Linked DNA regions of Homo sapiens. The protein of the gene in region 2 purifies or fractionates together with the protein of the main gene of each other region. This does not show direct contact. Each region holds a gene or a part of one and is shown on either strand. Other genes may lie near its edges.

What was found. The genes of interacting proteins can lie anywhere in the genome.
Region 1: the proteins of INTS9 (region 2) and NELFB purify together in Homo sapiens (affinity purification with mass spectrometry; one large-scale study listed by BioGRID and IntAct). This does not show direct contact.

Annotation. Positions count from the first base shown.
Region 1 is NC_000009.12:137,261,827-137,265,326, reverse strand, and holds part of NELFB (negative elongation factor B), read right to left. Parts: intron 2,291-3,500; coding exon 2,105-2,290; intron 1,083-2,104; coding exon 970-1,082; intron 1-969. UniProt on the Homo sapiens protein: Essential component of the NELF complex, a complex that negatively regulates the elongation of transcription by RNA polymerase II.
Region 2 is NC_000008.11:28,879,970-28,883,469, reverse strand, and holds part of INTS9 (integrator complex subunit 9), read left to right. Parts: intron 1-3,500. UniProt on the Homo sapiens protein: Component of the integrator complex, a multiprotein complex that terminates RNA polymerase II (Pol II) transcription in the promoter-proximal region of genes.

The DNA of each region.
Region 1 (3,500 bases), on a different chromosome or scaffold from region 2:
AAACAAACAAAAAAAAGGCTGGGTGTGGTGGCTCACGCCTGTCATCCCAGCACTTTGGGATGCTGAGGCCGGTGGATTGTTTGTTTGAGACTAGCCCGGGCGAGGTGGTGAAATCCCATCTCTACTAAAGATAACAAAAATCGGCCAGGCGCACTGGTGTGTGCCTGTAATCCCAGCACTTTGGGAGGCGGAGACAGCAGGATCAATGCCCAGGAGGTTGAGGGAGACTGTACCACTGCACTAAAGCCTGGGTGACAGAGACCCTGTCTCAGAAAAAAAAAAAAAAAAAAAAAAAGGAAGAAAAAAAGTGGCAAAGGCAGGGCCAGGCAGCACTGTGTCTATACACCAGCCAGAGGATGCTGGAAAGCAAATGCCAATGGATGCCCCTCAGCTCAGAGGCTGACCCCACGCCACTGCAGACACCAGACCCCAGCCCCTGGGCCTGGCTCCAGAATGCAGAGTTGAGGAGGGAGACTTTGCTACCCACACACATCCCGACAACCATGTCCCTAAGCTGTGGGCCAGCAGTGCCCGGCATAGCTCTATTGAAACATCCAGGAGGCCAGGCACGGTGGCGCATGCCTGTAATCCCAGCACTTTGGAAGGCTGAGGCGGGTGGATCACCTGAGGTCAGGAGTTCAAGACAAGCCTGGCCAACATGGTGAAACCCTGTCTCTACTAAAAAATACAAAAATTACCTGAGCGCAGTGGCGCGTGCCTGTAATCCCAGCTACTTGGGAGGCTGAGGCAGGAGAATGGCTTAAGCCTAGGAGGCGGAGGTTGCAGTGAGCAGAGATTGCACCACTGCACTCCATCCTGGGCTACAGAACGAGACTCTGTCTCGAAAAAAACAAAAGAAAAAGCAATATCCGGGAATAAACGCCTGCTACCCACGGCAAAACACAGCAAGCGCAGACCGGATGCACGCAGGGCCCTGAGGGGCAGAGGCCTCGTGGAGCCGACCCTCACCCCAGCACCTGCTCCTGGCCCTTCTTGACGCCATCGAGAAACCCCTGCAGCTCCCGCGCCCTCTTGCTGTCCACGAACCGCTCTCGGATGCAGGCGTCCAGGCACCAGGTGAACTGCAAGGAGGAAGCACGGTCGGGACCAGCCCAAACCTCCCAGGATGACCAGAGACCCAGGCCCCAAACACAGCTCCAGGCCCTGGCCTCTTGTTCAATCATAGCTGCTGCGGGGGGCGGCAGCAGGCACCAGTCATCCTGACGGTGCAGTGTTCCCCACACCTCCCGGCCAAAGCAGCAGGGTCAGGACAGTGGTGGAGAAAGTGATGATGTTTCTTTCTAAAAACGGACTCCTTCATGGCACCCTGAGTGTGGGGGTGGCCACTGCAGCACTCCAAGCAATGGAAGCCTCGGAGGGTGACTCCCAAGTCCCGGAAAGATGGTCTCAGGGCTGGAGGGTCCGTATGAAGGGAAACCCCGTTCCTAGAGCACTTGGTACCTGGCCAACAAGCAGCACCCAGGGTTCTGGGGAAGGGGAGGGCCACAGGCCAGGTGGAAAGATGGGAGGAAGCTGGGGCAATGGTCAAGGTCCAGCCCGTAGGTCATACAGCCCTCGGGAACACAGAAAGGGCTGGACGGGGCAAGGGAGTCCCCGGGAACGGCCAGGTCTCTGGCTCAGATGCAGGGGACTAGCCTCCTTCCCCCATCAGGGTCTGGAGAGAAGCCAAAGGGCCAGCACACAGGACAGAAAGACCAGAGCCCAGGAAACAGGCATGGGAGAGAAGGGCGCCCAGGTGGTCCCGGGCCAAGCCAAACCCACGGAGAGGAGAGGAGCCAGGAGGGCCAGGGGGAAGGAGGGAGGGCAATGCTACCTTCAGGAGGGGCAGAGGGGGAAGGAGAGAGGGCCGGGGAGTTGGGGGGAAGGAGGGAGGGAGGGCAGCGCTACCTTCAGGAGGGCGGAGGGGGAGGAGGGAGGGCCGGGGAGCGGGGGAGAAGGGAGAAGGAGGGAGGGAGGGAGGGCAGCGCTACCTTCAGGAGGGCAGTGGGGGAAGGAGGGAGGGCCGGGGAGTGGGAGGGAAGGAGGGAGGGAGGGCAGCACTACCTTCAGGAGGGTAGGGGGGAAGGAGGGAGGGCAGTGCTACCTTGTGGCACGGGTCCACGGTGCAGATTTCACCCACGTCCAGGTCGTGCAGGGACATGAGCAGCTCAGCCCGCAGCGTGCAGTAGTGCACATTCCGCGTGCGCAGGAAGAGCGTGCGCAGAAACTGCAGCACCATGTCGTACAGCTTCACGTTCTTCCCCACCATCCGCGTCAGCCGCTGCACCACCTGCAGCAAGAGGCACTGTCAGGCCCCCAGACCGTCCTGGGCTCCGCCAGACACAGGGACGTCACGCCCGGCGACAGCGCGGCCCTCTCTCTGGACATCTGTCCTTCCTACTTTTTGGCAGAAAACATTCCCTCCTCTCATTAAATATTGGCCCCCAGTCTGATGGTAGCAGGTTCTGTTATTTTTATTTTTTTTATTACTTTTTTTGAGACAAGGCCTTGCTCTGTTGCCCAGGCTCGAGTGCACTGCTGCAACTGTGGCTCACTGCAGCCTTGACCTCCTGGCTCAAGTGATCCTCCTGCCTCAGCCTCCCAAGTAGCTGGGACTACAATTGCATGCCACGACACCCAACTGTGGGCAGCAAGCCACCCAGGTGCCAAGGCAAGAGACCAAGGGCACGAGCTGTTCCAGTATAACAAAATATGCAAGAATAGTTATATTAGATATAGATCATAGATATGATTATATTTGAATATTAGTCATTAGCTTGTAGCAATTACTCTTTATTCCAATATTATAACAATCCTCGCTCTACAATCATAATCTAGGAAAAACCAGGCCATACAGAGATAGGAGCTGAGGGGACATAGTGAGGTGTGACCAGAAGACAAGAGTGCGAGCCTTCTGTTATGCCTGGACAGGGCCACCAGAGGGCTCCTTGGTCTAGCGGTGACGCCAGCATCTGGGAAGACGCCCGTTGCCAGGCGGACCAGGGTCTAGCGGTAGCGAAAAATGTGAAGGAACAACACCCGCTACTTAGCAGACAGGGAAAGGGAGTCTCCCTTTCCCCGGGGGAGTTTAGAGAAAACTCTGCTCCTCCACCTCTTGTGGAGGGCCTGACATCAGTCAGACCTGCCCGCAGTTATCCAGAGGCCTAACCGTCTCCCTGTGATGCTGTGCTTCAGTGGTCACGCTCCTTGTCCGCCTTCATGTTCCATCCTGTACACCTGGCTCTGCCTTCTAGATAGCAGTAGTCAATTAGTGAAAGTACTAAAAGTCTCTGATACGCAGAAATAACGGCGTAAGCTGTTTCTCTCTCTCCTCTCTCTCTCTCTCTGCCTAGGCTGCCAGGCAGGGAAGGGCCCCCTGTCAAGCGGACACGTGAACCACGTGACCTTACCTATCATTGGAGATGGCTCACACTCTTTACCCTGCCTCTTTGTCTTGTATCCAATAAATATCAGCGCAGCCTGACATTCGGGGCCACTAC
Region 2 (3,500 bases):
GTTTCTTTACTTTTACTATTTGTCTTCTGAATGTAACTTTCTTCTTTGATCTATCCTCACATGCTCTCAGTCTACTATAGACTTCATCCGTGTTTAGTAAAGTGTCCCTGGAGTAGTGATTGCAGACGTGGGAAGATGGACCAGAAAGGGGAACACATTTCTTCAGATAAAAATATGGTGCCATAAGAATCTTCAAAAGGAAGCTTGTAAAAGATCTATGGTGTTGCTTTGGAAATGCCAGTGCATAGATGTAGGAATTAAGATGATGGTACTGTGAGATCAGACAGATTGGAGAGGCAGCTGGGGAAGTGTGGGTAGATGGCAGAGGAAATCCCCTATACTCCCCAGAAAGGGGAAGGCCAGTGAGAGGAAGCCTGGAGTTGACACATCAGGCAGGGCTAAGAAAGGGGTACGTGCCAGAAATTTGCAGGGATCGCAAGAAAAGGCAAGAGTAGGAAAAGAAAGGACAGGAAGGGAAAATAGAGAAGACCCTGCAAGAGAAAGGCACTGGCTTGAAAGTCGCAAGTTGCTCAGTGATCAAGACTAGTAACTGTGTGGTGGGAACTTTACTGTGAGAAAAACAACAGGTTTAAATGGCCCCTGATTTACCATGAATTTGAAGGAAATGCCTCAAAGATTTAAAATGTTTAAATTTATTGAAAGCACATTTGAATGAACTTTTAGCTCTCTCAAAGACAGGTAATCAGACAAATGATGTTCAAGAAAGCTATTCTTTAATAGGTATTGTAAAACTAACACCTTTTTTGGCTTTAGGGTAGTTTATTTCTCATCACTGATGTTTATGAAGAGGTGGGGGAGGTGTATAATAAGATGTCTTGCATAATCCATTTCTCAGATTTATGGCTTAATCAGAGTCTCTTTTTCTAAATACATTATGTCTACATTTTTCTTTTTTTTTTTCTTTTTTTTTTTTTTTAGCTGTTAATATCGCTTGCATATATTTCTTTTTTTTTTATTTTATTTTATTTTATTTCTATTTTTTTTTTTTTTATTGATCATTCTTGGGTGTTTCTCGCAGAGGGGGATTTGGCAGGGTCATAGGACAATAGTGGAGGGAAGGTCAGCAGATAAACAAGTGAACAAAGGTCTCTGGTTTTCCTAGGCAGAGGACCCTGCGGCCTTCGGCCTTCCGCAGTGTTTGTGTCCCTGGGTACTTAAGATTAGGGAGTGGTGATGACTCTTAACGAGCATGCTGCCTTCAAGCATCTGTTTAACAAAGCACATCTTGCACCGCCCTTAATCCATTTAACCCTGAGTGGACACAGCACATGTTTCAGAGAGCACAGGGTTGGGGATAAGGTCACAGATCAACAGGATCCCAAGGCAGAAGAATTTTTCTGAGTACAGAACAAAATGAAAAGTCTCCCATGTCTACTTCTATCCACACAGACCCGGCAACCATCCGATTTCTCAATTTTTTCCCCACCCTTCCCGCCTTTCTATTCCACAAAACCGCCATTGTCATCATGGCCCATCCCCAATGAGCCGCTGGGCACACCTCCCAGACGGGGTCGTGGCCGGGCAGAGGGGCTCCTCACTTCCCAGTGGGGGCGGCCGGGCAGAAGCGCCCCTCACCTCCCGGATGGGGCGGCTGGCCGGGCGGGGGGCTGACCCCCCCACCACCCTCCCGGACGGGGCGGCTGGCCAGGCAGAGGGGCTCCTCACTTCCCAGTAGGGGCGGCCGGGCAGAGGCGCCCCTCACCTCCCGGACGGGGCGGCCGGCCGGAAGGGGGGCTGACCCCCCCACCTCCCTCCCGGACGGGGCGGCTGGCCGGGCAGAGGGGCTCCTCACTTCCCAGTAGGGGCGGCCGGGCAGAGGCGCCCCTCACCTCCCGGACGGGGCGGCTGGCCAGGCGGGGGGCTGATCCCCCCACCTCCCTCCCGGACGGGGCGGCTGGCCGGGCGGGGGGCTGACCCCCCCCACCTCCCTCCCGGACGGGGCGGCTGGCCGGGCGGGGGGCTGACCCCCCCCTCCCCCCTCCCGGACGGGGCGGCTGGCCGGGCGGGGGGCTGACCCCCCCACCTCCCTCCCGGGCGGGGCGGCTGGCCGGGCAGAGGGGCTCCTCACTTCCCAGTAGGGGCGGCCGGGCAGAGGCGCCCCTCACCTCCCGGACGGGGCGGCTGGCCAGGCGGGGGGCTGATCCCCCCACCTCCCTCCCGGACTGGGCGGCTGGCCGGGCGGGGGGCTGACCCCCCCACCTCCCTCCTGGACGGGGCGACTGGCCGGGCAGAGGGGCTCCTCACTTCCCAGTAGGGGCGGCCGGGCAGAGGCGCCCCTCACCTCCCGGACGGGGCGGCCAGCCGGGCGGGGGGCTGACCCCCCCACCTCCCTCCCGGACGGGGTGGCTGCCGGGCGGAGACGCTCCTCACTTCCCAGACGGGGTGGTTGCCGGACGGAGGGGCTCCTCACTTCTCAGACGGGGCGGTTGCCAGGCAGAGGGTTTCCTCACTTTTCAGACGGAGCGGCCGGGCAGAGACGCTCCTCACCTCCCAGACAGGGTTGCGGCCCAGCAGAGGCGCTCCTCACATCCCAGACAGGGCGGTGGGGCAGAGGTGCTCCCCACATCTCAGACGATGGGCGGCCGGGCAGAGACGCTCCTCACTTCCTAGATGGGATGGCGGCGGGGAAGAGGCGCTCCTCGCTTCCTAGATGGGATGGCGGCCGGGCAGAGACGCTCCTCACTTTCCAGACTGGGCAGCCAGGCAGAGGGGCTCCTCATATCCCAGACGATGGGTGGCCAAGCAGAGACGCTCCTCACTTCCCAGACGGGGTGGCGGCCGGGCAGAGGCTGCAATCTCGGCTCTTTGGGAGGCCAAGGCAGGCGGCTGGGAGGTGGTTGTAGCGAGCCGAGATCACGCCGCTGCACTCCAGCCTGGGCACCATTGAGCACTGAGTGAACGAGACTCCATCTGCAATCCCGGCACCTCGGGAGGCCGAGGCTGGCGGATCACTCGCGGTTAGGAGCTGGAGACCAGCCCGGCCAACACATCGAAACCCCGTCTCCACCAAAAAAAAACGAAAACCAGTCAGGCGTGGCGGCACGCGCCTGCAATCGCAGGCACTCGGCAGGCTGAGGCAGGAGAATCAGGCAGGGAGGTTGCAGTGAGCTGAGATGGCAGCAGTACCGTCCAGCTTTGGCTCGGCATCAGAGGGAGACCGTGGAGGGAGAGAGAGGGAGAGGGAGAGGGAGAGGGAGAGGGAGAGGGAGAGGGAGAGGGAGAGCTATGTCTACATTTTTCTATGCCATTAAAATAAAGGCAAGCATAATGAGATATTCTAGCTTTATAAGTCTTCTTTCCTCTATTTTTTTCCAGCATGTGGAAATATGGGTAAAAAGCAGTAGTTTTAATATGTAAATGATATTATTATAGTTACCTTTTTTTACATTGTTTAAACAGCTTTTTTGAGGTGTAATATGTAATATGTAAAATTCTTGCATATAAAACAAAATTCAATGACTTTTAGTAGATTTCAGAGT